Homo sapiens: one gene and its partners. The protein of the gene in region 7 interacts with the protein of the main gene of each other region in a pairwise test. Each region holds a gene or a part of one and is shown on either strand. Other genes may lie near its edges. The genes, in order: USP25, REPS1, WNK1, MYBPC3, SYNM, DYSF and FLNC.

What was found.
Region 1: the proteins of FLNC (region 7) and USP25 interact in a two-hybrid assay, tested with the Homo sapiens proteins (one study listed by BioGRID).
Region 2: the proteins of FLNC (region 7) and REPS1 interact in a two-hybrid assay, tested with the Homo sapiens proteins (one large-scale study listed by BioGRID and IntAct).
Region 3: the proteins of FLNC (region 7) and WNK1 interact in a two-hybrid assay, tested with the Homo sapiens proteins (one large-scale study listed by BioGRID).
Region 4: the proteins of FLNC (region 7) and MYBPC3 interact in a two-hybrid assay, tested with the Homo sapiens proteins (one study listed by IntAct).
Region 5: the proteins of FLNC (region 7) and SYNM interact in a two-hybrid assay, tested with the Homo sapiens proteins (one study listed by IntAct).
Region 6: the proteins of FLNC (region 7) and DYSF interact in a two-hybrid assay, tested with the Homo sapiens proteins (one large-scale study listed by BioGRID and IntAct).

The regions. Positions count from the first base shown.
Region 1 is NC_000021.9:15,823,569-15,827,788, reverse strand, and holds part of USP25 (ubiquitin carboxyl-terminal hydrolase 25), read right to left. Parts: intron 3,751-4,220; coding exon 3,623-3,750; intron 2,824-3,622; coding exon 2,728-2,823; intron 1,586-2,727; coding exon 1,424-1,585; intron 813-1,423; coding exon 586-812; intron 1-585. UniProt on the Homo sapiens protein: Deubiquitinating enzyme that hydrolyzes ubiquitin moieties conjugated to substrates and thus, functions in various biological processes including inflammation and immune response.
Region 2 is NC_000006.12:138,946,329-138,950,548, reverse strand, and holds part of REPS1 (ralBP1-associated Eps domain-containing protein 1), read left to right. Parts: intron 1-2,635; coding exon 2,636-2,759; intron 2,760-4,220. UniProt on the Homo sapiens protein: May coordinate the cellular actions of activated EGF receptors and Ral-GTPases.
Region 3 is NC_000012.12:880,872-885,091, forward strand, and holds part of WNK1 (serine/threonine-protein kinase WNK1), read left to right. Parts: coding exon 1-128; intron 129-820; coding exon 821-918; intron 919-1,039; coding exon 1,040-1,202; intron 1,203-2,071; coding exon 2,072-2,188; intron 2,189-2,523; coding exon 2,524-2,697; intron 2,698-2,902; coding exon 2,903-2,960; intron 2,961-3,249; coding exon 3,250-3,372; intron 3,373-3,777; coding exon 3,778-4,220. UniProt on the Homo sapiens protein: Serine/threonine-protein kinase component of the WNK1-SPAK/OSR1 kinase cascade, which acts as a key regulator of blood pressure and regulatory volume increase by promoting ion influx.
Region 4 is NC_000011.10:47,339,023-47,342,702, forward strand, and holds part of MYBPC3 (myosin-binding protein C, cardiac-type), read right to left. Parts: coding exon 3,556-3,680; intron 3,135-3,555; coding exon 2,969-3,134; intron 2,223-2,968; coding exon 2,116-2,222; intron 2,011-2,115; coding exon 1,981-2,010; intron 769-1,980; coding exon 629-768; intron 383-628; coding exon 302-382; intron 1-301. UniProt on the Homo sapiens protein: Thick filament-associated protein located in the crossbridge region of vertebrate striated muscle a bands. In vitro it binds MHC, F-actin and native thin filaments, and modifies the activity of actin-activated myosin ATPase.
Region 5 is NC_000015.10:99,125,213-99,129,432, reverse strand, and holds part of SYNM (synemin), read right to left. Parts: intron 2,712-4,220; coding exon 2,641-2,711; intron 67-2,640; coding exon 1-66. UniProt on the Homo sapiens protein: Type-VI intermediate filament (IF) which plays an important cytoskeletal role within the muscle cell cytoskeleton.
Region 6 is NC_000002.12:71,511,699-71,515,794, reverse strand, and holds part of DYSF (dysferlin), read right to left. Parts: intron 3,989-4,096; coding exon 3,874-3,988; intron 2,556-3,873; coding exon 2,463-2,555; intron 2,080-2,462; coding exon 1,874-2,079; intron 173-1,873; coding exon 44-172; intron 1-43. UniProt on the Homo sapiens protein: Key calcium ion sensor involved in the Ca(2+)-triggered synaptic vesicle-plasma membrane fusion.
Region 7 is NC_000007.14:128,843,906-128,847,473, reverse strand, and holds part of FLNC (filamin-C), read right to left. Parts: coding exon 3,561-3,568; intron 3,471-3,560; coding exon 3,208-3,470; intron 2,817-3,207; coding exon 2,219-2,816; intron 1,485-2,218; coding exon 1,311-1,484; intron 1,174-1,310; coding exon 1,011-1,173; intron 730-1,010; coding exon 569-729; intron 1-568.

The DNA of each region.
Region 1 (4,220 bases), on a different chromosome or scaffold from region 7:
CACACACACACACACACACACACGCACACGCACACAAGTGCACACACCCCACCCAGAGCACTGTCCTTATTTTTCTTATTTTGCTGCATGCCAGTAAAAACTCTGTTACAGACTAGTAATGGGATCATAGATACTCATAAATCTGTTAGAGCTATTAAAAATTAAAATTCACATTTCTAATTCTTAAGCCCAAAGAAAATTTTTTAATCACCGGAACTCCCTGTGCAAACTTAGATTTAGTACCTAATTGATATGTACAAACATTGATATTGTATGACATTTCTCCAATGGAGTAACTGTGAATACCAGTTTGATATAAATTTAGAGCAGCAAACTAGAAAATCAGGCCATCTGCTATGTCATTAATCAGCTAAGCAATCCAGGGAAAATCTTTTGGTCCCTGTGAACCTGATATTGAGATTATAAAAATGGGGAGCCAAACTAGTTTATCTTAAAACCCTTTCTGGAAAAGAAAAATGACTATAATATTTAAATATAAAATCCAGACGTGATTTCCCTTCTCAATATTAACATTACACATATCCATCTGAGGTGACAGTAACCATGCTATGAGACACTTCTTACCTCTGGTGTCATTTTCTATTTCTGTCCTCCAGCGATGTAAACAACTTTCCAGCACAGAAAGTTCTTCCTCCGTTATGTGCCTTGGTGCCGGATGCATGGGCAAATCTGGAGGTATCCGGGACTGAGTAAATGGTTTGTGTATTACTGATCTCGATGAAATGGCAGCAACTGATGAAGGTGATGTGCTTGGCAGTTCTGAAGATAGGGCTCCCTGTTGTTCTGTTGTGCTGTATCAAAGCATAGAGTATTTCTTATTAACCTTTCAAGCTGAAACTCTTGACAAAGATCGTGCCAAACCCACAGTATTAAATTGGCTTGTAATTCAAAAGAAAAAATCTTAAAGAAATATGTGGATTGATCTAACATCCAAATGAGATTTTTAATACATAAGAACTAAATTATTATAAGATGAAGTTGTAGCTTTAGAGTTAAAACAGCTTAATCATATTTATTTCTAAAAAACAAGAAAATCTTACGCATGGTGATATTATTTTCCCTGGCTTATCAGCTTACATTACAGAAACAAATTCTAATTTGATAGTACTATTTTTATGGATCATAAAATGCTGAATCTTATATATGTACATACCAAAACATGCTAAAGTATAATTCTGAACTGAAAAAAAATGTGATTAAAATTTTAATCCATAACCATAAAATCTACTGAAATAATAAAAAAACTCCCAGAGGACATACAGTCTTCTAAGTGAATCTACTCTTAGGAGTTCACTGAAGTAAATCAAAGCATACATTTTATAGAAACTGTCTTTAAAGGCAGCAGTTACATTATTGTGTAATAAAGGTAACAACTGTCTCTTGCATCAGGATTACTTTTTACCTTGGTAATGTCTGTGATGGTATGGAACCACTAGGTGGGGAACTAGCGTCAATATCGTCAACAGGAGAAGTGCAAACAGGTTTACTTGAGGCAAATTCCAATGCATACTGAAGAACATCTACCAAGGGGAATCGTTTGGGACCGGAACCATAGCTTAAATATCTGTTAATCATAAAATGTACAAATGCTTTTATTTCTATATACAGCATATTTGGGCCTTTATTATTATTATAAAACGTGATACGATACTTCAATAAAACTTCCTCAGCAATAAAATTCATTTGCTTTAAAACGAAGATGGTAAAACTGAATATACACTTAAGAAAAACATTAAAAGTTCCCCAAAGACAGGAAACCAAGGCCGATTGGGACTGAATGTGAGTATATACTGTTATAATCTGTAAATGCTGTTCTAAATTGTAACTCAATAGGAAGATGAAAACTGACATCTCCTGAGACTGTTTTTATTTTTAGATCTGGCATCTGGTCTCATGATCAAGACAGTGATGTGTACTATCCTCCTATCTTTTACCACTAATCATGTTTCAATATGATTATTCATACTTTTTAAGAATAAAAATCATTAAAATACAATATACTATTTGATGTAAGAAGTTTTAGACTACTAATTTGAAAATTCCTAAAATAGGGGAATGCAGAGCAGATTGGGGTTTGCAAACTGAAATGACTTGTGACATTTCAGCCTTTAGATTTCTGTCTGGCCTGTAGAACATTTCTCAGTCCAGATTCTGACGTCTTTTAGAAATGATCCAAATCAATAGACAACAGTGAGGCCATACTCATACATGGTACCATCCACTGGTATGGAATGGCATTCATTCCCTGTACACACAGATTGCTCTCTAGGCTCCCGGCACATACCATCTTACACCTGACACAATTTCCTCCTTTACGAAGCTGCTGAGAAGACTTGGTAGGCAGCTGAGTTTGTATCCTGTTTTAAGGAGAAAAACTCAGATACCATTCATTTTAATGAAAATCTCAAGAGTAATCTTTAGTTTCATGCAAAAAGGAAGGTCAAAACTATATTCATTTAACTTTGTATCTATTTTCAGCAGTAGGAACATTACCTGTTGACAATGAGATATTTAATTTTAAACACTAGAATAATTTTTTAAAGTCTACTATAGATTTTTAGTTTCAAGCAAAACTCAAAACTATTCACACAATATTAACTACTCCTAAAATTATAAATCACTCAAAGCAAATTTGAAATTAAAAATCTAGTCACCAAATACATGGTTTCTGATAATTATCTCCTAATTTCATAAAAGTTAAAATACCTTTCTAGCCTTTGTTGTAATACCGTGAGGTAATCTTTCAGTCTCTTGATCTCTTCCCTCTTAATTCTTGTTATTTCTCTGTTTCTGTGCATGTATCTATCAGAAAAAGGTAATCATTAGCATTTCCGAATATCATGAAAGTAGATGCAATATGGCCAGATGCCAGCGTACCCGGCCTACCACTCTGGGACGCCAAGGCGGGAGGATCACCTGAGGTCAGGAGTTCAAGACCAGCCTGGCCAACATGGTGAAATCTCGTCTCTACTAAAATACAAAAATTAGCCAGCCACGATGGTGGGTGTCTGTAATCCCAGCTACTCGGGAAGCTGAGACAGGAGAATCATTTGAACCCAGGAGATGGTGTTTGCAGTGAGCCAAGATCGCACCACTGCACTCCAGCCTGGGCGACAGAGCAAGACTCTGTCTCAAAACAAAAAAGAAGGAAAGACAGAAAGATAGACAGAAAGACAGACAGAAAAAAACAAAAGAAAGAAAGACAGGAAAACAGGAAGACAGAAAGACAGGAAGACAGAGAGACAGAAAGAAAGACAGAAAGATAGATAGATACAATATTAAGTACAGACATCACCACAAAGCATCAATTCATTCAAAATTGTATAAGATGTAAGGTAGATAATACAAAATGGTATTTTTTAAAATTCTGAATTTTAAGATTACAAAATTCATCTTTTTTAAATTTCCTTATAACATTATTCCCAAAAACTATACTTTTCTAATACAAAGTAAATTTCATCTACCTTGACAAATGGTATTAGGTATATTATGCAAAAGTAGAAATTAATTCTAAGAAAATTATGCAGAATTTTCCTCTAAACAATATTTTCTCCCTTACTAAACTGTTTCAAACTAAGTCATGCAGTATATCAAACCATACCTGTCCAAATATAAAACTTGGGGAAATTCTAATTTGTTGTGAATTTTTTCTGGTCTTCCCAATGCCTGATTAAATTCAAATCTTGACAATTCAAATGTTAACACAGGTGGTAATTCAGTAAACCAATGCTGAAAGGAAATAAAACAATAACAAAAACTTTAATACCACCTTTGTTTTCTTCACTGCAATCTTAGGCACAGGATGTGGGCACTGACATTGTTATATGTATCACCACAATGCGGACCTGACAAGTAACTGGGTACACAGTTTAGTTAAAACTCAACCTCTTTCTAAAAGTTTTCCACACCTCTTGAAAATTCCAAGAGTGGGTATAATATATGATCAGGAAAAAAAGAAATCTCACAACTATCCTTCGAAAATAATTCTTTACATTAGAATTTCTAGCCCAAAGAAAAAGACACTGGTTAAAACCATGACTTAGTAGCTCAAGTCTTCTCTGTCTTCTTCAACGTGATGTTGAATGGCACTTATACTTAACCAAAGCATCAAAATCCTGTGATAAAATAACTTATGAGAGGGAGTACTCAAAAAAAAATTTATATCATAAATCGTCACAACTCTCATACTAAAAATGAAA
Region 2 (4,220 bases), on a different chromosome or scaffold from region 7:
TTTCAAGTTAATGGAGAAAAGATGAGTTTTTAAATAAATGGTTAACTTATTCTTTTTTTTTGCGGGGGGAGACAGAGTCTTGCTCTGTTGCCCAGGCTTGAGTGAAGTAAAACCATCATAGCTTACTGCAGCCTTGAACTCCTAGGCAAAAGTGATCCTCCCACTTCAGCCTCCTGAGTAGTTGGGACTATAGGCATGTGCCACCACATCCAGTTAATTTTTAACTAAATTTTTTTTCGTATAGATGAGATCTCACCATGTTGCCAGGGCTGGTCTTGAACTCCTGGCCTCAAGCAGTCCTCCTACCTTGGCCTCCCAGAGTGTTGCAATTACAGGCATGAACCACTGCTCCTGGCCTCAATAGTTAACTATTGAGGAGGATCAAAAGGATATCTGATTTGTTTCTCATTCCAAAATAAATTCCAGTTTGGTCAGACTTGTATATTTTCAATATTAATCATAAACATTCTAGAAGAAAACATGTATAAAGACCTTTTTTCTAAGTCTAGCAAACCCAAAAGTCCTAAAGGGGAAATGACAAGCTTGTATAAAAATTGGAAAATTCTGTATCACCAAAACAGCTTTTTTGGAAAAAACAGATAAACTAGAAAACAACATGTGCAATATGATCTGGTTTCTGCCTAAGTCATCAGCTCCATCTGCTGCATTCCCTCCTCCCCATCAATTCTACACACACTTACAGCTACACTCTGGTCTTTCCTTCCTGAGGATGCTCAGTAAATAGTCATTGAATAAATGAATTAATTCCATGACAGTTTGCAGGTCAATATGTATAATATAATAAAACCTTTTTTTTTTTTATGAGATGGAGTTTCAGTCTGTCACCCAGTCTGGAGGGCAGTGGCATGATCTCGGCTCACTGCAACCTCCATCTCCCGAGTTCAAATGATCCTCTCACCTCAGCCCCCCGAGTACTTAGAATTACCAGTGCGCACCACCACACCTGGCTAACTTTTGTATTTTTAGTAGACATGGGTTTCACCGTGTTGGCCAGACTGGTCTTGAACTCTTGATCCCAAGTAATCTGCCCTCCTTGGCCTCCCAAAGTGCTGTGATTACAGGCATGAGCCACTACCCCTGGCCACAATAAAACTTCTTAAAATGAGTAAAGAAGATTAACAGTCCATTTAAAGTTGCCAGAGAACAAGTTGGGCAAGTCAGGAAAAGAAATGCAAATGGCTAACAAATATAAAACTTTTAATAAATACCAATTAAAACAGCATTGAGATTCTGTTTCCCTTCTTGAACACTACCTCCTCATTTCTAACCATTTCCCTGGTGTCTTCCCAAAATGTCAACAAACCATACTGTGATCTCCTTTTAGGTCTTCCCTCTGTCTAGCATATACCTGGCATATGTTAGTTGCATTGTTATATAAACAAAAGTATTTAAGATATGTAATGAACCTCTAAGAGGCGTCAAGTGGGCAGAAGAGTAGAGGATTGGGGCTGCATGACCTTGCCTTTTTAAACTCCCCTTTTCCTCATAGTTCCCTTGATGGTGTTAACCTGCCTGTTTATTCTCTTTGCCCTTTTACATTTCTTCAGAAGGACATGCTCCTTAGTGGCAGGAACAGGAACTTCTTCCAGTGCTGGTCAGCCAGCAAAAATGACTCTTTTTTGTGTATGTAAATAAATGGCTGTTATTGTTGTGATACAATTGCTTAATCATTAATAGGTCCTTTTTTTGAAGTCCTGTGAATAGTTTTATTCAGACTTAATACCACAGCATCTCAGATACCTTATCTTCCTTTGAGTGTTATGGAAAAATAGACTAAAACTGCTCTCTCTATACAAAAGTTTGTGTTATTTGAAAAGATACAACAGGCATGCCTAGTGTTTATTTTAAGATAAGATTATAATATCTGCATAGTAGAAACCTCCAGCTTTTAGAGTTATGATTTTGTAATCTGAAATCCTATTTTTTGAGTCTAATATTTACTTGTGCTAGCAAGTCTAGAAATACTTGTTGAAAGACTGGAATGATTAATGTAGATCCTTGAACACTTTCATGCTCTAAAAAAGACAAATTTTGTTTGTTTTAAAGAAGAGTAGTGTAGCCATATTAAACACATTTGGAAAATAAGAGGGAAAACCCGACTCAATCTCATCTGAAAAAATTGTGATAGACTTTTAAAAAATAGTTTCCAAATTTGTATTTATGTGGTTAAAATTAGGTATCTTGCCTTTCTTCCCCACTTGATAAATCCTTAGTATTTTTCCATGTTGTTATATCATTTAAAGACCGTCACTTTAAATGGCTGCATAATAGTCTCTTAGTCACATGGTCCTATTGTATGTGCAGTGCTTATGAATAAGAGTGGGTGGTACGTTGTTTCTTTAAAAATGTGACTCATAACAAAAATTTATTCTAAGAAAATTGCTAATCATATGGATTTTGATAAATAGGAGAATGATGACCTTATTGCAAAGCAGTGACTTTTTGTTTGTAAACATATGAACCTGAAACTTGAGGAAGTTGGTTGTCAGTTGTGAGTATTATACCATCTATTAGATAGATATTTTGAGACGTTACAAACAAGTTGGGTAGCTGCTTATTTTTGAAGGGAGATTTTTGTTGTGAATCTTAATGTTAACATTATGTTATTTTATAGATCATGGAGCTTTGTGGTGCAACAAGACTTGGTTATTTTGGAAGAAGTCAGTTCTACATTGCTTTGAAACTTGTAGCTGTTGCCCAGTCTGGTTTCCCTTTAAGAGTGGAAAGTATAAATACAGGTAAATATAGAGTACACTAGTAACCGAAAGAAAATAGGCTTCTATTACAAATGAAGTCAAGTCAATAGAACTCTTGTGTCTTTCTGATCTTATAGTGGCATTTGTGACCTTGAGTGAAGTGTCGTGACTTTATTCCCACTACCTTGCATTTCTCACTTGAAAATACTAGAAAAATATGTCTGACCTGTATTACGGCATAGTATATGTACTTCATCTGTATTTGACTATATGTACTGTTCAAATGGCAATTTTTTAAGAATTAATTTACCAAAAGTTGTTTAGAAATATTTTAGGCGAATAGTTTTATTAAGGTAAATGATAAATTACAGCGACCATCTTCATGTATAGCGTCCCTGTGTTCTTCATTTCCAATAAAACAACATTATACTTTGTATTTTTGTTTGTTTGTTTGTTTGGGAAGGCTGTGGAGGCTTCAGTTGAAATTAAGAAGTAACAGTTAACCTAAACTTTTTGATCGATAAGAGACAATATTAAAATATTGGCAGACTAAAATCTAGTTATAGACATCTGACCACATTACAAGTTTGTATTAGTCCATTTTAACACTGCTATAAAGAAATCCCTGAGACTGGGTAATGTATAAACAAGAGAGGTTTAATTGACTCACTTCTGCATAGCTCGGGAGGCCACAGGAAACCTACAATCGTGGCAGAACGTAAATGGAAAGCAAGGCACATCTTATGTGGCCACAGGAGAGAGAGAGAGAGAGAGAGAGAGAGAGAGAGAGAGAGAGCAAGGGGGAATAGCCACAGACATTTAAACCATCAGATCTCATGAGAACTTGCTCACTATCACAAGAGCAGCATGGGGGAACCGCCCCCATGATCTAATCACCTCCCATGTGGGAATTACAATTCAAGATGAGATTTGGGTGGGAACACAGAGTCAAACCATATCGAAGTGTTACATCAGATAATTTGTTTTTCAAGTATTTAGAGGCTTGTTGATGTGAAAGAAGATAGAAATTCTATAAAGAAAGGCACTTAAATGCAGAGGGTTCTTTCATTTTCATAGAGTAAAGGGGAAAGAGAAAAATTAAGATTTTAAAAATAATCTGTACAGAAAAATTTCTGTAAAATTCTGTAAATATCAGAATTTGTAGAAATAGTTTTAAGTACCAGTTTAGTTTATTGGTCGGTAGAGGTTTTCATTGTGGACCTCTAGTTTGCCACACATCATTCTTCTAGTGTTGGGAGTTTACATTCTTTTCAGGTAATTTTGAATTCTTTTACATGTATATTGAATAAGCTTAATAGTTTCCTTCCTTCATGTGGAGGTTCTAAACAGAGACGAAAGTAATCATGTAATGGAGGTAAGTACGCTTTCCTCTGAAATGATTTTGTAGCTGTATTTTTTCTGGTCTAAAAGTATCACTTATTTACCTGCAAACAGTTTCTCAGTCCTTCATCTTTCTCCTCTATTTAAAATTGAATGTAGAAT
Region 3 (4,220 bases), on a different chromosome or scaffold from region 7:
TGCAGCCTTATGTGGAATCAAATCTTTTAGTTCCTATGGGTGGTGTAGGAGGACAGGTTCAAGTGTCCCAGCCAGGAGGGAGTTTAGCACAAGCCCCCACTACATCCTCCCAGCAAGCAGTTTTGGAGGTAAATAGAATTACTGCATGTTTATATGTAAAACGTATATATGTAATTGGACAACAATGATAAAGGAGAAAGAAACAGGCTCCCCTGGTTTAGAACTTATTTGGAGACCATGTCAAACTAACTTCTGCATGACTTTTTCTTACAGCAGAATGAAATGCCAATGTGGGGTCCTTGTTTCCACTGGCTGTTCTGTTGGGAAGTGAGTGTGCCTTGGAGAAGATGAACCCTATTAGCACTTCACTTCTCTAGCTAGTACTTTAGCCATTATTCTTGTCCTTTCACAAACTTTTTCCATTGGCAGTCATAAGAGTATCTTACCCTCCTGTGCTCTCAGCAATCATTTTTGCCCTGCTAGGAGAAGATCTGAATTCATCTTTGTACTATGCTCTGTCTGCGCTATTGCACACTCTTGGTAAGATGCTGGCTGCATGGCAAGTTGTAGGTTCACACTGCCTAGCAGATATGTTGGCTGACCTCATACCATGCAGTCTATACCAGAGACTAGCTTTAGCAACTTCCTTTGGAATTTTAAGACCATTATCTCTAGATGCTGAATATTGAGAATTTACTAGTAAATTTAGTGCTTCTAGGACGTAGTGGGGAGGGATAAGGAAAAAAATAAGTAGATTATTGGGGATAGTGAATGATAAATCTATTACTACCGAGATTTGAGTTATCTTTTCGATTCACAGAGTACTCAGGGAGTCTCTCAGGTTGCTCCTGCAGAGCCAGTTGCAGTAGCACAGACCCAAGCTACCCAGCCGACCACTTTGGCTTCCTCTGTAGACAGGTACGTAAAACTAGAATTCTCCTTCCTTGACTGGTAAATAAGACGGTATGAAACGCCAAACTGTCAGACCTTTAAATCTCATATTATAAACTGCACTTTTTTTTCTTTTTAAATTTCAAAGTGCACATTCAGATGTTGCTTCAGGTATGAGTGATGGCAATGAGAACGTCCCATCTTCCAGTGGAAGGCATGAAGGAAGAACTACAAAACGGCATTACCGAAAATCTGTAAGGAGTCGCTCTCGACATGAAAAAACTTCACGCCCAAAATTAAGAATTTTGAATGTAAGTATTCCTAATTTGTGAGTTTCATGTTGTTAAAGGAATTTGACACTGAAAAAGATTTTAGAGGTCATCAAATCCAAACCACTCACTTCATAAAATAAAGATAACTATCTGTGTGTGACAGATAATTTTTTTTTTTTTTAGACGGAGTCTCGCTCTGTCGCCCAGGCTGGAGTGCAGTGGCATGATCTCTTCTCACTGTGATTGCAGTGCCTCCTGGGTTCAAGCGATTCTCCTGCCTCAGCCTCCCAAGTAGCTGGGACTACAGACACGTGCCACCACGCACGGCTAGTTTTTGTATTTTTAGTAGAGACAGGGTTTCACCATATTGGTCAGGCTGGTTTCAAACTCCTGACCTCAGGTGACTCACCTGCCTCAGCCTCCCAAACCACTGGGATTACAGGCACCCAGCCAGATAATTTATATAGTACTCTTCTCATTTCATGCCCACAGTCTCTTTGACTTAAATATCACATTTTTAGAAAAATGAAAAGGTAGTTCATAAAGCTATGATAGGGCCAGCAGTTAATATCATTTAAATATTTCTTAAGGCTTAGATGAATTGATGAATGTATAGGATCTTATAATTAGCCAAATGATATTCTTACATTCCATATTTCTATGATAAAGCACTACTTATCTTTTAGAAAAAGAATAGAGAGTTTTAGTAAGTAGCTCAAAGGCTAACGTCTTCTCAAAGATTTTTCTTGCTACCAGTTTAAGAGACAAAGTACTAGTGCTCCAAGGAACAGCGATAACACTATGCTTCCTTAGACATAAAGTCAAGTGCTAATCTGCATTGCTTTTCTGAAATTCAGTAATAAAGCTGAATATGGTCTTTGGAGATGATGTACCTTTTTTCTTTTTAGGTTTCAAATAAAGGAGACCGAGTAGTAGAATGTCAATTAGAGACTCATAATAGGAAAATGGTTACATTCAAATTTGACCTAGATGGTGACAACCCCGAGGAGATAGCAACAATTATGGTACGTCTGCATTTGGAGTTCTAGGTTTTTCCTTAGTACTTGATCTTAATAGCCATTGCTCTAGGCAAATATGCCATATTTTATAATCCATGTTTTTTTAAAGTTATGCATTTACTTCAATGTGAATAAAACTATCACACCCAACCTGTGATTTAGTGATGTTTTTGTCTAGGCTATGTCTAACTAGATATTGAAGTTCTTAAAAAGAGAAGAGCTAACTTGAGTACAAAATAAATAAAAATATAGGTAAGTATGCAGATAGGACAGAAGTCATAAAAGTGACATAAAGTTTGAGAAATGACACTAATTAGACTGACATCACATTTCTTTTACAGGTGAACAATGACTTTATTCTAGCAATAGAGAGAGAGTCGTTTGTGGATCAAGTGCGAGAAATTATTGAAAAAGCTGATGAAATGCTCAGTGAGGATGTCAGTGTGGAACCAGAGGGTGATCAGGGATTGGAGAGTCTACAAGGAAAGGATGACTATGGCTTTTCAGGTTCTCAGGTAGGTTCACCACTCCCATAGTGAAACTTTGTTGATTTAAAATATTTTCATAGTTCTAAATTTGCTATGCAAAATGTCCAGTGATATCACCTGACACCCATGACCGACAACAAACTTTTATGTTCTCTTCACATGTGGCAGTTTGCTTTGCCTAGTCATTGAGATTGCATTTGAGAATGTATTTAATCACTTTTGTTTGTTGTAGAAATTGGAAGGAGAGTTCAAACAACCAATTCCTGCGTCTTCCATGCCACAGCAAATAGGTGAATTTATTTTCTTTCCTTGTTTTTACCTTTGACTTAAGAAGCCATTAGCCGAGGGTGGTGGCAGGCTTCTGTAGTCCCAGCTACTCAGGAGGCCGAGGCACGAGAATCGCTTGAACCCAGGAGGCGGAGGTTGCAGTGAGCTGAGATCGCGCCACTGCACTCCAGCCTGGGTGAGAGAATGAGACCGTGCCTCAAAAAAAGCAGTTGTATGTGCCAATAATGAAGTCTAACAATATTTATAATAATAATGCTATTAAGTTACGTTTGTTTGTTTGTTTTTGACCAGGCATTCCTACCAGTTCTTTAACTCAAGTTGTTCATTCTGCGGGAAGGCGGTTTATAGTGAGTCCTGTGCCAGAAAGCCGATTACGAGAATCAAAAGTTTTCCCCAGTGAAATAACAGATACAGGTAAGGGATTGATTCTGCCACATTGTTATGTAAATTCTACAGTGCCTCTGCTATGTTGAAAGCTTAATCATAAAGCAGTAATTTATGATGACACAGATAATAAAAAAGAATAGAAAACTGAAGTTATAACCAACAGATAAACATATGGGAGAGGGAAATAGATGAAGAATACAGAGAATTACAGAAAAAGCCAAGAAGCACGGCCATACCAAGATATAGTCTGTATAATAGATATTGTAGTATGTGTTTATTTCTGCACTTAGTACTGTTGTCTATGTTTTAAGATTACTCCATATTTTTTATCAAAAACAGATATTTATAGGAGCTGACTTAGGCTAGCAGACAATCTTTTGAATCCATCCTTTTAAAATCAGCTGATTCTTATCTTTTTGTATTCCTTTGCAGTTGCTGCCTCTACAGCTCAGAGCCCTGGAATGAACTTGTCTCACTCTGCATCATCCCTTAGTCTACAACAGGCCTTTTCTGAACTTAGACGTGCCCAAATGACAGAAGGACCCAACACAGCACCTCCAAACTTTAGTCATACAGGACCAACATTTCCAGTAGTACCTCCTTTCTTAAGTAGCATTGCTGGAGTCCCAACCACAGCAGCAGCCACAGCACCAGTCCCTGCAACAAGCAGCCCTCCTAATGACATTTCCACATCAGTAATTCAGTCTGAGGTTACAGTGCCCACTGAAGAGGGGATTGCTGGAGTTGCCACCAGCACAGGTGTGGTAACTTCAGGTGGTCTCCCCATACCACCTGTGTCTGAATCACCAGTACTTTCCAGCGTAGTTTCAAGTATCACAATACCTGCAGTTGTCTCAATATCTACTACATCCCCG
Region 4 (3,680 bases), on a different chromosome or scaffold from region 7:
GTTGAGAGGGAGCACAAGGTCAAGGTCAAGGTCAGCTTAGGATGAAGGGAGCCAGGGAGCAGCCCAGTCATGAGGGCTTCCTGGCAATGAGAGGGTGTCCACATCCTTGTGATGGCCATCAGCACACTTCACAGAGACCCTCTGCCTGAGGTGTGAGGGCCCCACAGGGACCCTGCTGGGGGCAGCAACACACCCGGCCAAGTGTGGCACCTCCATGGAGACCTCGCCAAGGGCTCGGCACCACGTAGGTAGAAAGTGATGAAAGACAAACGAGCCTCCTCCTGACCTCAGTCTCACTCACCTTCTTGTCAAACACCCACTCATCGCTGTCACCTGTGTCCTCTGGGGCATCTGGGGCTGGCCTGGCTGGGGCCTTATTCCCCTGGGAACAGGGCAGGAGGGAAGTAGGGAGCAGAGGAGCTGACTCAGCCTGGAAGCGCCCCTCTGCTGCTTCTTCCACCCCCTGACCCACACTGCCCACCTTGCCTGCCCCCTGACCAGTCTCTCCCATGGGGTAGCCAACAGCAGGGCGTGCACATGTGGGTGGGGTGTGCAGCAGGTCCTAGCACTTGGCTGGTTCCACACACCCATCTTATAGATGGGGAGACTGAGGAGGGACCCACAGTACCTGCGTGATAGCCTTCTGCCAGATCACAGTGGGAGCAGGGTCCCCAGAGATAGGGACGTCCAGACGTAGCTTATTTCCAGCTACAACCACAATGGTGTCTGGTATGCGGCCTGGGCAGTCCAGGTGGATCTTGGGAGGTTCTGCAGAAGACACAATGTAGTTCAGAGAAACGGGAGAGCCAGGAGGAGCACAGGTCACTGGGGCGGGGCTGCTCAAGAGCCTGGGCCCCTGGTTATTGGTTTTTTAGATTTGTATTGAGGTATAGTTTATGCTCAGATCTGACAGTAGGCTGAGTTCTGACAGATGAATACACCCATGCAATTATTAATCCAACCAAGATCTGGAACATTCCCATCACCCCAGGACGTTGGCTGGGAGGCTTGTAATATTCAGGTCAGGTCACCTAGCATAGCATTTTGAAAACTGGGGGAACATCAGTGTCTTGCCACACACATACACACACACACAATACACACACACACACGCATATACACATACACACAGACACACATACACATACACACATGCACACACAGACACACACATGCACACAGACACAAATACACATACATACACGCACACACACAGACACAGACACACATATATACATACACACACAGACACATGCACACACACACACGCGCGCACACATGCACGCACACATGCACACATTAAAAAGGTTCCCTGGCCAAATAAATCAGGAATCTGCCCTCAGTTAAACAAAGCAAAGCAGTCTGGACGCAGTGGCTCACGCCTGTAATCCCAGCACTTTGGGAGGCCGAGGCAGGCAGATCATGAGATCAGGAGATCGAAACCATCCTGGCTAACATGGTGAAACCCCGTCTCTACTAAAAATACAAAAAATAATTAGCTGGGCATGGTGGCGGGCGCCTGTAGTCCCAGCTACTCAGGAGGCTGAGGCAGGAGAGTGGTGTGAACCTGGGAGGCGGAGCTTGCAGTGAGCCGAGATCGCGCCACTTCTCTCCAGCGTGGGCGACAGAGGGAGACTCCGTCTCAAAAAAAATAAAAATAAAAAAAAAGGAAGAAGAAGAAAAGATGTAATAATAACAGTCACACATGTGACAGCACTTGACAGGTCTGATACATCATGTCACCTCATCTTTATAACTATCCTATGAGGTGGCACTATCAGGGTTCCCATTTTAGAGAAGAGGAAACTGAGGCTCACAGAGATTATAATTGACCCATGGTCATGAGTGGCAAAGCTGAAGCTGGGCCCCAGGACCCCCACTTTTGATCCTTGCTCTTCCCTCTGTGAGTGGAGGGGAGGCCTGCGTGGGTGGGTTGCGGGAAAGTGAGCAGAACCAAGACTCAGGGGCCCCAAGACTTACCCTGCCTGGGTACGAAGTCAATCTTGACCTCTGCAAGAGAAGGAAGAGCAAGTAGCACGGGGGCAAAGGCAGGGCCCAGTGACAGGGGCTCCTGGCCCCACTGCCCCGACCCACCCTACCCTGGAGCAGGCTCACCCATGAAGTGGAGCTTGGCTGACAGGTTGCAGGCGAAGCCCTCGGGCACAAAGCTGTAGTCAGCCTCGTCGGCAGGTGTGACGTCGTCAATGGTCAGTTTGTGGACCCTGCAGGGGAGCAGTGGCTCAGGGGACCCCACTGGGCCACACACCCCTGGCCTTGCCAGATACCCCAGCCAGGGTCCCAGGAGGCCCTCACCTTGTCCTGGCTTGTTGGTATTCTGATTTTTAAAAATGCCTTTTTTTTTCTATATTATCTAATTTTCCAGCTTTTTAATGTGCCTTCAGAGGTAGGCAGCGTAAAAGTGATTTCTACATCAAAGCATCTCCTTGGCTGGGCCCTTGGAGACTGGGCAGGGGCTGGGTCTCATTAATCTCTGTGAACTTGGGCCCAGCACGGCCAGCCCAGTTGCTCCAGGGATGAGCAAGAGGGCGGGAGAGGCAGTGAGGGCCTCTGGCCAGAGCCGGCCTCCTTGGTGGCCTCCTGCCCTGCCCTGGTCACAAGCTGGGGGAGGGTGCTGGGGAGCGCTCGACCCCGTCCGTGTCTCTCCCTGCTGCCTCTTTGTCTCTGTCCCTCTGTTCTTCTCTGTCTCTGACGAACTCTCCTATGTGTGTGCCTCCCTGTGCATATCTTTCTGTCTCTATAGAACTATTTCTGTCTTTCTGTCTCTTTGTCTTTTTGGGTCTGTCTGTTTCTCCCTCTCTGTGGGTCTCTGTCTCAGTCTCTGTCCTGTCTCTGTGCATCTGCCTCTCTGTCCACCTGTCTTTATCTCTCTCTCTCTGTTTCTCCCTGTGTCTCTCTCTGTCTCCATCTCAGTCTCCACCTGTCCCATCCACCTGCCCTGCACACTCACCGCCCGATGTGGGACACCTTTATGCGGCTGTCGGGCACCAGCTCCTTCCCATTCTTCAGCCACACACCCCGAACATTCTCATCTGAGACCTCACATTTGAACACCGCCTGGTCCTTTGCGCCCACCATCAGGTCTGCGATGCTCTGGTACACCTCCAGCTTCTTTTCTGCAGGGCAGGGCAGAGCCATTGAGCTCGGGAGGGTGTGTGGGTGTGGCGTGAATCCCTGTGGAGGGCGTGTGGGCCCATGGGCGCTGGTGCGCACGTGTCTGGGTGCATGTGGGCATGTGAAAACACGTGTGCCTGTGTGTGCCATGTTTGCCTGTGATGGTGCAGTGCACATAAGGAACCTCAAGTGTCTGAGGGGTGGTGATGCTCACCAGGCCCGTATGACCCTCTCAGTACCCTCTGGAGCGGTCACCTCAGCATCGTCATTTTAGAGATGAGAAGGATGAGGTTTAGGCTGTCAAAGGCCCAAGGTCACAGAGGCCTTGAGCCCAGGTTTGCCTGCTCCCCTACAGGGCTAGGTGGGGTGGGGGCTGAGGGGTCCAAGCCCTAAAGCCTCATGTGCCCCCCCAGCCAGGCTCACCCTGCACAATGAGCTCAGCCAGCGCCTGGCCCCCGCTAGTGCACAGTGCATAGTGCCCCGCGTCCTCCAGCATGGCCTCGTTGATGATCAGGTGGTGTCTCTGCCCGTCCTTCTTGAACCGGTAT
Region 5 (4,220 bases), on a different chromosome or scaffold from region 7:
ATAGATTCCTTTCATTTTCCCTCTGTAGTAGTGAGTCGGTATAGTGATAGGATTTGTTTCTGAATTCTGTAGAAATTGAACAAAGCATTCATTAAAATGACAGTCATCATTACCCTTTTCCATCTACAAGCATTGTTGCAGGCCAAATCCCATTCCATCATAATAAATATACACTGTTACCACAGAAAGCTCATTATAAAGATAAGTTATATTTGGTGCCCAAATTATTTTTTGGCAGTTTACAAAATCCTGTTACAATAAAATGTAGCACTACAAATACTTCAGCCTAACACGTTTCTCCAGTTACTGATATTAAAATACTCACTCATCTTAACATTAATCATAAAGCACAATGCATATCCCAGAGAGGTCAGAGGTGCTCGTTTTTGTGGCTGAAATTTCACAATCTTATATTTTGAAATCATTAATTTCTGCTTTTTGAGGTAAGTTTAATTTACTGTAGCAGAGAAGAGCTCTGTAATTACAAAGTGTGTCATTATTAAACACCAAATAGCATTATCCTCCACTATTTAATATACTCTTCTGTTTCACTGATTTCCATATTGGGCCAACAAGTATTAAAGAATTTAACTTCTTTAAGCTTTCTGATCTTTTATTTTACATTTAACACTTATCTGAAAAGGAGCCAGTGCAGAAACACCCCGGTCTGTCTTAGTGTCATGATCCTGAAGTTGGGAGGCAGTCCTCAGGGCTTCCAGCTTTGCTCCAGGCTGTTTGCAGACAGTGCTACCCTTTGGGGTGTCCACACCCCAGCAGGGGAAACCGCTCTTTAGGAATGGCAGCTGGTGGTTAGAACGCAGCCAGGAGCACCGTCCACCCCGAGAGTGCCCCTGGTGTCTACCCACACCCCAGCTGGCTCAGCGGGGACAGGGCTTTCTCTCTCCCTTATGGAGCCAAGGCCAGAGGCCTCCTTTGCACAGATCCCAAGATACAGGAAAGAGACCAGGCCAGGACATTTTCTACAAGACTCCTCTTTTCAGGTCAACTGATCCTACTGATCCAACTGAGAAGTCCCAGAAGATGAACCCCCAGGCAATAGTGCAGGGACCATCTCATTTACAGTTAAGATTCAACAAGAAACATGGAAGATTACAGACTGGGTTTAGGTCCACCGGCTAGCGGGCAAGCGGCCAACATTATTTTATGCAATATTATAAAAGAAACACAAGCACACTAACAAGTATTGATAAGTTCACTACTTAGGAACTTATCTGTATATTTACTCAACAGAACAGAACTATCTAGAAGCTCAACGTCTAATAAAAATTCCCAACTAGTAATTTTTATTCTAAAGCTTTTGGCATAATATGTAATTGCCAGAATAAATTTAGTTTACAAATATTAAGTCTCTATTTCCTTCAAGAAGCTTGAAAAATAATGAATGAATGAATGAATGAATGAATGAATGAAGCAAGTTAACAGCAACAGCTGTTAGCCCCTCTGTGTGCTCTCCCTCGGCCCCAAAATCACAACTGGGAAAATTTGAGCAAGGCCCTGGCTTAGACTGTTGGTCTTCCTCGGAGCTCCTGGGCCCTTTTCTTCCTTCTCCCCTCTCTCTAGGTTACATGATGGATGTCCAAACTTAGGTATCCACAGGTTAAAAATGTAGGTAACTAAGTAAACCTTGAAATCTGGGGAGTTAATTCTTGTTTTATAGATGTCACACGTTAACTGATGCCAGGCAGGTTGACCAATGCCTACCCTTCCATGAACACCTTTGCTTTTTTCAAACTTACTCTCAAAATTAGAAAGAAAATTTGCTGCATGTTGTCTAAGACCAGATCCCTTCCAGTTATAGATGACTAGAACCCAAATATTCTTCTCAACCCAGTGACATGTCAAATCCATGAGTTGCCTAAAAGAAACAATGAAGACTAAAACCATGCTGCTGCCTAAGGTGTGAACTCAACATTCTATACGTAATTTAATCGACACTTGCTTAGCCAGAGCTCTTCAAGATTCTATAGGGCTTTAAAAGGTTAAAAAACAAGTTATCCCTCAGTTTCTTAGGATCTTTCTAATGAACATTAATGATCTTATGTCAGTTCTGCAGCCATAGGAAGGATGGGCCCTGTCCTGAGGCTCTTGGCCTCAATAAGGTAGTCTTCAAGGCACCAGGACACATTTTCCTGAGCTGCTCACAACAACCTAGGGTGGTGTAAACAATGTAACTATTCCCATCTCTCTTCCTGTTAGGGTAGCAGGTTCCAGAGTGCTGCCTGCCTGCCATCCAAGGCCATACCTCCCTCTACAGGTGTAACAACCATAACCCCTTGGTCTGGAAATGGAAGGAGTGTCCCTTCCAGGGGTGTGAAACACAAGTTCAGGTGCACTCCTGCTCGCCCTCACACTGCCCAGTGCCATTAGCCCCTTCCGCTCCTGCATCCTGTCGAGAGAGGGACCAAGTTTATCAAGCACCTTCCCAAACATTCTCATTCACATAATTGAAATTATGTCACACTAAACTAAAATCTATTTGGTACTTAAATGAGAGATGAACTCCTGTTATCTAAACACCATATCTAACCCGTTCTTCCCGATGATGGTGCTTTACTATCTAGCCACAGAATAAACAGTTCAGATGCCTAAAGCTAAGTCAAGTCATTAGCTTTTACTTACCTGACGGCATGTTTTCAACGTGCTCAGCCCAGATCACTATCTCTGGATTACTTTCTCCTTCCAATAAGGCCCTGTAAAAATAATTTACAAACATAATTCATTAGGAAACGAAAGAGTAAGAAGTGCCTCTAATAAAACGTATCGTGGTATGCGGCCAATGACCATAGTGTCACCTGTTTTAGGACTTCTACCTGAAGAGGAGACTTGGGCAGGGCTGCACCATAGGGCTGGCAAGCCCACCCACCAGCCTCAGCAGACCTGGGCCAGGCCACCTGCTCTGCTCACCGCCACATCCCTGGCAGCCAGCATGGCGCTCAACCCCTACTAGCCCAGTGAACAAAATGACCAGGCCAGGGCTTCGGCAGTACTGGCGAGCCAAGCCCTTCTAGAAAGCTTTCTCAGTCCAGGGTGAAGAGGAGCAGGAGCAAGGGGGCACTGGAGAGATGTGGGCCCCAGGCTAGAGGGCCCCAGAGCAGCTACACCCCCCACTGGGTTCTTCCTGGAGTCACAGCTGGTGGGGGCAGCTTGCAGAGGGCTGACCAGGAGACGGCAGGGACTGACACTTATAAGGCAGCCAGACTGCATCTGTGGTTTCAAACTGCATTCCAGGGGGTCACCTTGGAGACGACAAAAAGAAGTAGAAGGCAGGCAGACGGAAAAGGTAGTGCTAAAGCGCCCCCCGTCAGTAGCCCCTCCCCATGCCACCCCCAGGGGCCTCACTTCATCCAAATTGGCATCCTGTTATCTCCTTTAATAAAATGGTGAGAAGTACCCAACAAGGTGATTTCTTTGACTATGTCTGCGCCAAAGTTCTAAAATTATAGAAGTTTCATTAGGTTGTTCACGTCTACTGCTTCAGATCCCAGAGCTGAGGAGAGTGGTCCCAGCAGACCCAGCCTGCTGGCGAGGGGCTTAGCACCGGGATGCCTGTCAGCCAGTCACTCGCGAAGACCCCTTGGGCTGCTGGCAGCTCTGGGTGCAACAGTTTCTCAGTTGCTAGAGCAACATGTGAAGTCACTAACTCCGGTTCCAAGAAATACACTGCACACGGCAAAAGGCATCCAGAACAAGAGCCCACTGAGAAATGCCAATCTTATGGCTGAGAGCTGGGCACAAAAACGGAGCAGGGTGCCCACACCCGAGCAGGGACTTGGCAGCTTGGACAAACTGCACTGAGTTGTATTTCCATCTGTTGAAACATGGTGAGCCCCATGAACACGAGAGCCCTGTGAGCAGCTGGAAGAAAGCAAAGGAGGCATGAGGCACTCTCGCGAAGGCGCACACAGCGGGCCTGCCCCGGCGCAGTGACTGCGGGATGCTTGTGTGTGGACGGGGCATGTGCAGAGGCCCGAGTCCAGAGCCCCAGCCCTTCGCTCAGGGCAGAGGCCAGGAAACAGGACACCAACCCATTAATCCCACGCCCTCATGACCAAGCATTGTAGGTTCCAGGAACGCAAACAGCTTTCACTGCTGAGAAAGTTCTGAGGTCTATATAATCAGAGGAACATTCGGGGTAAAAGCCAGGCCCCAAGGCTCTGCACCCCAGGATGACGGCAGCAGAAGGGGTGGCGTCCTGCAGC
Region 6 (4,096 bases), on a different chromosome or scaffold from region 7:
AAGGCCCACCAAGGTTCTGGCCCTCATGCCCCATGTCTCCCACCTCATTGAAGAGTGGGCTGTTTCCCTTGTGGATCCGCGTCCGCTTGGTCTGCCCTGCAGCGGTAACCTTGACCACAGGCTTGATGTTCACCCCCGGCAGCTGGCGCCCCTCGATCACCTGGACCCTGATCTGAAAGCCAGAAGGAGGAAAGAGCAGGAGGAAGGGGGAAGAGTTAAGGACCACCCACCATCCACCCCAAGAGTCAGAAATCTCAGGGACCATCTCACCACTGGCTTCTTGGGGAAAGTATTAAAAAGGAATTAGGAAGAGCATTATACGAACTATCATATTTTCCCACCAAGGCCCCTTACATCTATAAAATTCCACAGCTCCATAGAAGAGCTGCCAGGCTGCCCCTCGTCGGCTACCCACATTAAACCCCAGGGGTGGGCAGATACAGCCCCCATTTATGTCATTCAGCCATTGGCACAAGCCCCACCCGAGACCCCATTGATACTGGCATTTTTAAGTGGCTTGAATATTCTTTATTGACAATTCCCTCAGAGGTCGAACTTACACAGTGAAGTGACCCCAGAAATAGTCTTTATTCTTTATAAGATGCAATGCTTTCTTACATTCTGAGAAATAAATTAAGAATTTTTGCCATTGAGCTGTAAGTAAATGAAGACTTCAAGAACGTCTATGCTTCCAAATATTAGGTAAGATATTTTAAAATATGAAATTTTACAATATTAAGGCAATTCTATGGAAAAAAATAAGATATTTACTGGCTCCACTTTAGAATCAACTGTTATTTACTGACCAACTGTTTTTTTTTTTGTAAATTGCATAATATGGGAGGATATATTCTTAATAGCAATGGGAAGATGGATGAGTGATTTTTAATCTCCTCATTTTAATATATTTTCCAAAGTGTCTAAAATAAACATATGGTATTTCCATAAAGAGAACAAAGGCAATATGAACATGTTTGGGGAATAGTAGTATGGGGGCTAGAATTTTGTCTTTTGGGGCAAACAGTGGTTAGAGCTAGGACTTCTGCTTAAATTACCATGATTTAGAATAGAAATATATTTTTGCAATTTGTTGCACTTAGTATTATAAATAGAGATTTAAGATTCTTGCTTTTAACCTTAAAAGTAGTTGTAAAGAGTTAAATATCACTGTGTGACTACATCAAAATAGAAAATTCTTTTGAAAAGAAAAAAAAAATAGGCAAAGGACCAAAGTTAAAAGCAAATAAAATGGGATGGATTTTTGGATAAAAATGTGTCAAAGTGTTCATATTAATAGCTTTTATTCTGTGATGAGCTTGAACAAATTCAAATTCCACATGACTCTCAGAAAAATCCATGGCTATATGCAGGGGGATAGATATAAGGAGAAAAAAAAGATGTTAGACAGAGCTTCTTTGAGGTAAGGATCTTGTTAAAATGCAGATTCTGGTAGAGCAGGTCTGAGTAGACTCTGCATGTCTAACAAGTATACAGGTGATGCGGAAGGTGCTGGACACAGACCACACCTGAATAGCCAGGAGCTTGCTGGTTGGATATACCCTGGTTAGAAAAATCAGGTTTTTCTCTGATCAGAGATGCAAAGACATGCTGAATCTCTGCAGTGACTTTTTTTTTTTTTTTTTTTTTAAGCGCAAAACCACAGGTCTCGGCAGAAGCTTATTCTGTGGATGTAAGATGTGAACTCCCTGTTTGGCATCTGCCCAGGCCCAGGGAAACTACAGATTCCCCCACAGGAGGGCCCTGAGGATCCCACACACATCTTCCCCTGAAGCTGGACAAACCAGGCAGGTGCCTGGCACCCGCAGCTGATGGCTGAAGAGGAGCCTGGGGTCAGAGAAAGCCCGTTCATCACCTGGAAATCCTGCGGTTTGTCTGACAGCAGCTTTCTAGATGTAGGCGCACTTCGCTTTCTTTTGATCCCGGGGTAGTGGGGCGGAGGACGTGAAGGTAGTTTCCTTGGGGTGGTGGGAGCCCCCGGGCCTCCGCTTTGATCCAGGAATGGCTCCGCCTCATCTCCAGTGAGTCCCTGGTCCTCTGTGTCTTCCTCTCCTCCTGTGTCTAAGAGGAGAGGGCCCTAATGAGGCCTGGATCCCTCTGGCCCTGCCCCTGCCCCTGCCCCTGGGACCCAGCCCAGGGGGCAGAAGATCCAAAAGGCATGGGCCCTAAGACTCATCCCCTCTTCCTCTCCCTCCTCCCTCCCCATCAGTGAGCCAGGATGGATAAGGTAGAAAGAAGAGGAGCTTCCAGCAGCTGAAACTTGAGGGCAGTCAGTCCAGTTAGTCAACAGGAAGAAAACAGAATGGCCCTAGCCCTCCCACCCGCCAAGTCCTGCAGGAGGAGTCCTCTGCCACCTGGCCCCGCTCCAGCAAGCTGACCATGGCAGCTAGTGAGACAGTTACAGGGAGGGTCTGGGATCAGGACAGTCCTGGCCCGTGTCTCACCCGTGGGGGCCGGCCACTTCTTTCCAGAGTATCTCGTGTCCATGGTGCTGTCACTGAGCAGGGACCAAGTCTCGGCCCGGCTCTGTCCCCCGCCTGTCTTGTGGGCAGGGCATAACCCCGGGAGGGGAGGGAGGAGGTTGGGGTGAAGGAAACCAACCTACTGCACCTCCATCCCCAACCCTGCCTTCCCCGCCCACCCCAGCCTGGTGCAAAGCTCAGAAATAGCTGTGGAGCCCAGTGGCACCTGTTCCTTCTCACCACCTCCCAGGCGTGTCTGGAAGCCTCCACTGATTGGCCTGCACCTAACTCTGTCAGATCCACCTCAACACAGTCCCAGAGTATTCGGACCCTCCCTGCTCCCCACCCTCTGCCACCACGGGCACCTCTCCTTCCTCCCCTGAGCCCACTCCAGCCACACAGCTCAGGATTACCAGGTTACTCCAGTCCAGACTGATCTCCCATCTCTAAGCTCGGACAGTGCTGAGCCCCAACAAGACAGCTCTGCTCTGCCGACCTCACCACAGAGCCCTGTGCTGGGCTGGCCCCAGGTCAGGCACAGGGCACACTCAATTGAGACATGGGCTGCTCCGGTTTTAATGCTGTGCTTGCTTCTAGCTCCCTTCACTAAGAGAAAAACTCTAGAATCTTTCCCATGGGCAAGTGCCCACTAGCCCGTCTATGTAGCTTCCTCCCAACCCCAGCAGGCTGGACCACATGGAGGCTCCCACACCCAGGCCCACCAGTGGAGAGCCAGCCACCCCGGGCTGGGTCCTCGCTTGACCAGCCTGGCAGAACCAAGTGAAGAGAGCTGAGACAGGCACAGCACTTAGCTAACTTAGTCTGCTCCCTTCACAAATAATCTATGGGCCCAGAGAGGGAAAGTAATCAGCCCAAAGTCACACAGAGACTCAGTGTCAAAGGCAGGACTGGAACCCTGAAGTTCAGTTCAGGGCTCTTTCAAGAAAAAAAACTAGTTCTTTTGTCACACACCATCACCAAAGGCCTGCTGGGTGCTGAGGTAGGGAAACATTCGGTTCTGGGGAGTTTGTGGGGCCTCAGGTATCACCTGGGTCAGACCCCATCCCCACACACCCTTCTTGGAACTGCACAGCTCAGAACACCCAGCCTGGGCTCAGCCCCGTCCCCAGGCAGCTGGGGCTTGGAGGCACCCTCACATTACTCCCTGCACCGCCCAAGGGAACGTGCCTGCTGCCCCTTCTTTCTGCACAGCAGAAGGCAGCCCTCAGGACTTCCCACCCACTGCACCCTCTTCTTTCCAGGCCTGGGCAGCCTCCAACCTGGGGAGGGCAGCAAAGGCTGGGAAGCCTCGCTGCAGCTCCCAGCCCCCAGGCTCAAGTGCCACTGCCGGCCTTCTTGCTGGGGCCCAGCCAGGCCAACGTGGGCTACCCACCTGCCACTACATCCAGGTCAGGCAGAGTCGGGGAGGGCTCCAGAGGAGTAGGGGGCGGGAACAGGGGCACAGCTCCAGGCAGCGGTGTGTAGGACACCTGCAGGACCAGCGAGGCCTGGAAGAGATGAGACGTGGGGGACAGGTTGGTGCGCTGGCCTCGGACCACTGCCCTCCAGTATCTTCCCTGTTTCTGGCATCCCTCCACCAAGGAATATGGCTCTGA
Region 7 (3,568 bases):
CTGGAAGAGAAGGCCTTCCTAAATTAATAAAATGTGAAAATAAAATGTTTTCAAAAATGAAATGTATTTCTGACACTGTGGCTGAAATAATAAAAAGATGGGAAATTAGATAAGGGAAAAAATTTCCAATTTCAGCAGTCCCAAGTCATACAATATTTGAAGACATGACCTGCCCGGGCAGCTGGGTCTGCAGAGGGCAGGGGAGTTCTGCAGACGATGCGTGCAAGAAGGCCCAAGGCTGGCCTGAGCCGCCAAGAGGAGTGGACTGTGTCTGAGTTTCTGGACACACAGTGAGTGGTGGACCTGCAAAGCCAAGGTCTTGAGCTCCAGACAAGGGGCTAGGAGGCCAGAGTGTGTTCCTGTGATTGACTAGGGGGGCTGTCACATCAACCCTCATTGCCTGCCTCCTCCACGTCCTCCCTCTGGCCGGGCTCCGGCCCCAACCCACTCTAGGCTGTCCTCTCTATGAACATTCTTACCCAACTTCCTTCCAGTTTCCCCCTTGTGGGGCGAGCATCCTGCACCCTCCCTTGTCTTCCCTGAGACCCCGACCACTCTCTCTGCACACCTGGGATGGGCCGCCCCCCGAAGGTGATGTTGACGTCATAGTCTCCAGGAGTGAAGGGGATGTACTCCACGGTGCAGCTACCATCCTTGTTGTCCTTGCAGGACATCTTGGCTTCCGAGGGACCCTCGATGGCTAGGCCAAGGCCCCCGGTGCCCGCTCCCCTGAGAGATAACATCCCCCCATCAGCTTCATAAGACCAGTGAGTGAGGATGAGGGAGTAGCTGAATGGGGGGACAGGGAGGAAAGAGGGCAGGCCGCTGGGGACCCAGCTGAGGAGAAACGAGCTACAGGGGCCAATCTGGGGTCCTGGAGGGGGTCTGCTCCTGCCTCACCCCTGAGAGAGGATGGGGTGGGGCTGAGGCCCAGGCAGAGGGATGAGCGAGGAGGGCCAGGGGCTGGGAAAGGGTGGTCACAGATTTAGGCTAGCAAAGGGGGAGGATACCTGGTCTCCACAGTGAATCGGTTGGCCTTGTTGACCAAGCCACCCTCCAGGCCTGGCCCGAAGGCTCGGACGCGGGTGGGATCACAGCCCTCGGTCACGCCCACTCGGAAGGGGCTCTTGGGCACAGCGACCTCATCATACAGGACCTCCACCAGATGCACGCCTGGAAGCCAGCCACAGGGGCATCAATCAGGGAGTGTGCGCCCCCACCACCCCTCCTGCCCCGAGGGCAATATCATCAGATCCCGGCCCTGCCCACTTGCCCAGCCCTGCCCACTAGCCTGGCCCACCGGCCCTCACCCTCCTCGTAGGCGGTGTACTGCACTCGGTAGGTGCCGTCCCCATTGTCTGTCACATAGGTGTCTGTCTTGGCCCCCGAGGGGTTGAGCACACGAGCCGTCACGTGGTTGCCGCCTGTGGCTGTTAGGGATCTTGCATCCACAGTGAACTCAGTGGTCACCTCCCGCAGGACACCTGGAGCCCAGGGGTGGCGTGTTCAGCAGGGGTGGGGGCAGCCTTCACACAGATGCTCCCTCTCCTCTCCCCCTCCTTTCCCTCTCCTCTCCCTCTCCTCTTCCCCTCCTCTTCCCCTCCTCTCACCCTCCTCTCCCCCTCCTCTCCCACTCCCCAACTCCCAGGCTGCTCCTCTAATCGGAGCCTGGGCCCCACACCCTCCCCTGCACCTCTGTGAGCTCCAGCCTCTGCCTTCACTCCCTTCTCCATGTAGTGACATTCTCTGTTCACTTGAGTCACCCACCAGGCTGTGGGCCTGGGTCTTGCATCCCTCTGCCGTGGCCCATGCCTAGCCAGGGTCTGGCCCCTGGCAGATGGCCCATTCCCACTTACTGTCTTCTGACTCTTGTCATCCTCTACCCCAAAGCTTTCCCCGTGCCCCCGTCCAGAGCAGAGTTTTAGCTTTTTGGATCAGGGTACCCCTTAAGCACATGAAAGAAGAGATCTCTCCAGAAAAACGCCCAGAGGCAGGTGCAGTTTTGCCACAAGAGCAGAGGCCAATCTCCACCCCCGGTCTTCCCCTCCACTCCTTCTCTGGGGTTTCTGGGCCAGTAAGGACTCTGGGGCTGCTCCGAGAGCCCTCCCTTCACCCCAGGTTGCTCTTCCAGCTCTCAGCTCTTCTTCCCTCCCTCCCACGGACTACCCAGCTCCTGCACCTGCCACTTGACCTTTCTTGGCTCCTCCTGTCCACTCACCGTGTGGCTCAACACCAGGCCCTGAGACCTTGACGCCACTGGTATCGACCGCAGGCTGCACATGGACACGGGTGGGGAATTTGGGCACGGGATGCCCGCCATACTTGATGGTAATGGTGTAGGTGCCAGGGAAGGCAGGGCTGTAGGTGATGTGGTAGGTGCCATCCGCGTTGTTGTGGATCAGCACCTCGGCCTTGACCCCGGCATCCGACAGGATCTCAATGGTCAGCTCCGCCTCGCCTGCCTCTGAGCAGTCCACAGTGAAGGTGGCTGCCTCACCGACCTTGCCGCGCTCCAGGCCCGGTCCACTGGCCCGCACCTTGCTCGGGTCAAACACAGGCCGAATGGTGGCTTTGAAGGGCGAGCCAGGGATGTGGGCCTCAGCAAACAGGATGTTGATGGTGTACTCGCCAGGCTCCGTGGGCAGGTAGCTGACAGCACATGAGCCATCACCATTGTCCTGGCACTCGATCTTGGCCTCGCAGGGGCCCTCTACGGTCAGCCCCAGGCCACCTGTGCCAGCCCCCTTGGTGTCGATGGAGAATGGCGCGGGGGTGCCTACCAGTCCACCCTTGAGACCCGGGCCATAAGCACAGACCTAGGGGAAGAGGCAGGTTGTGGGTTCCCTGCACCTGGCCTCCTCATCCCAGCCTTCATGGCCCCCACCCAACTCATCACCTCCAACTGTGGCTGCTACTGTGGACTGAGTGCTTATAACAATCCCAGGTGATGACATTGAGGCAGCGAGATGAAGCAATTTGCCCCAGTTAGTGGACCTGGGATTCAAGCCCAGGTGTGACTCCAAGGCCAGGCTCTTAATAGCTAAGTTGTCTCCAAGGCAGGTGGTGGGGTGGGGCTGGCCTCAGCCCCACACCCTTGGCTGTGCCCACTCCAGGCACATAAGTCCCTCTGGCCTCTGCCCCCTATGACTCATCTATCTTCCCAACAAGTCCCCAACTCCCAGCCCCAACCAGCTCCTATCTCCTCACCTTGGAGGGATCAGGGGGCAGGACACCCTCCACAGCAAACGGGCTGCCAGGCACCGGGTGACCATCGTAGGTGATATCCACCTTGTAGGGCCCCTCCTCCGGGGGCATGTAGCGCACAGCCTGGGCTTCCGCTCCACCGCCTGGCTCCAGCTTGCAGGGGATGGGCCGGCGAGAGGGCGAAGTCATCCGCACATCCAGTTGGCCCTGACCGCCAGCCCCTCGTGTGTTCACAGAGAATGCTTGTTCCTGTCCCACAGCCACCTCTGCGTGGAGGGCAAGTGACACCATGAGGAGACTCCGGTCCACCCTACCCGAATACCCCTCACTCCCAGGGTGGCTCTTGCCCCACTTACTGCTATTA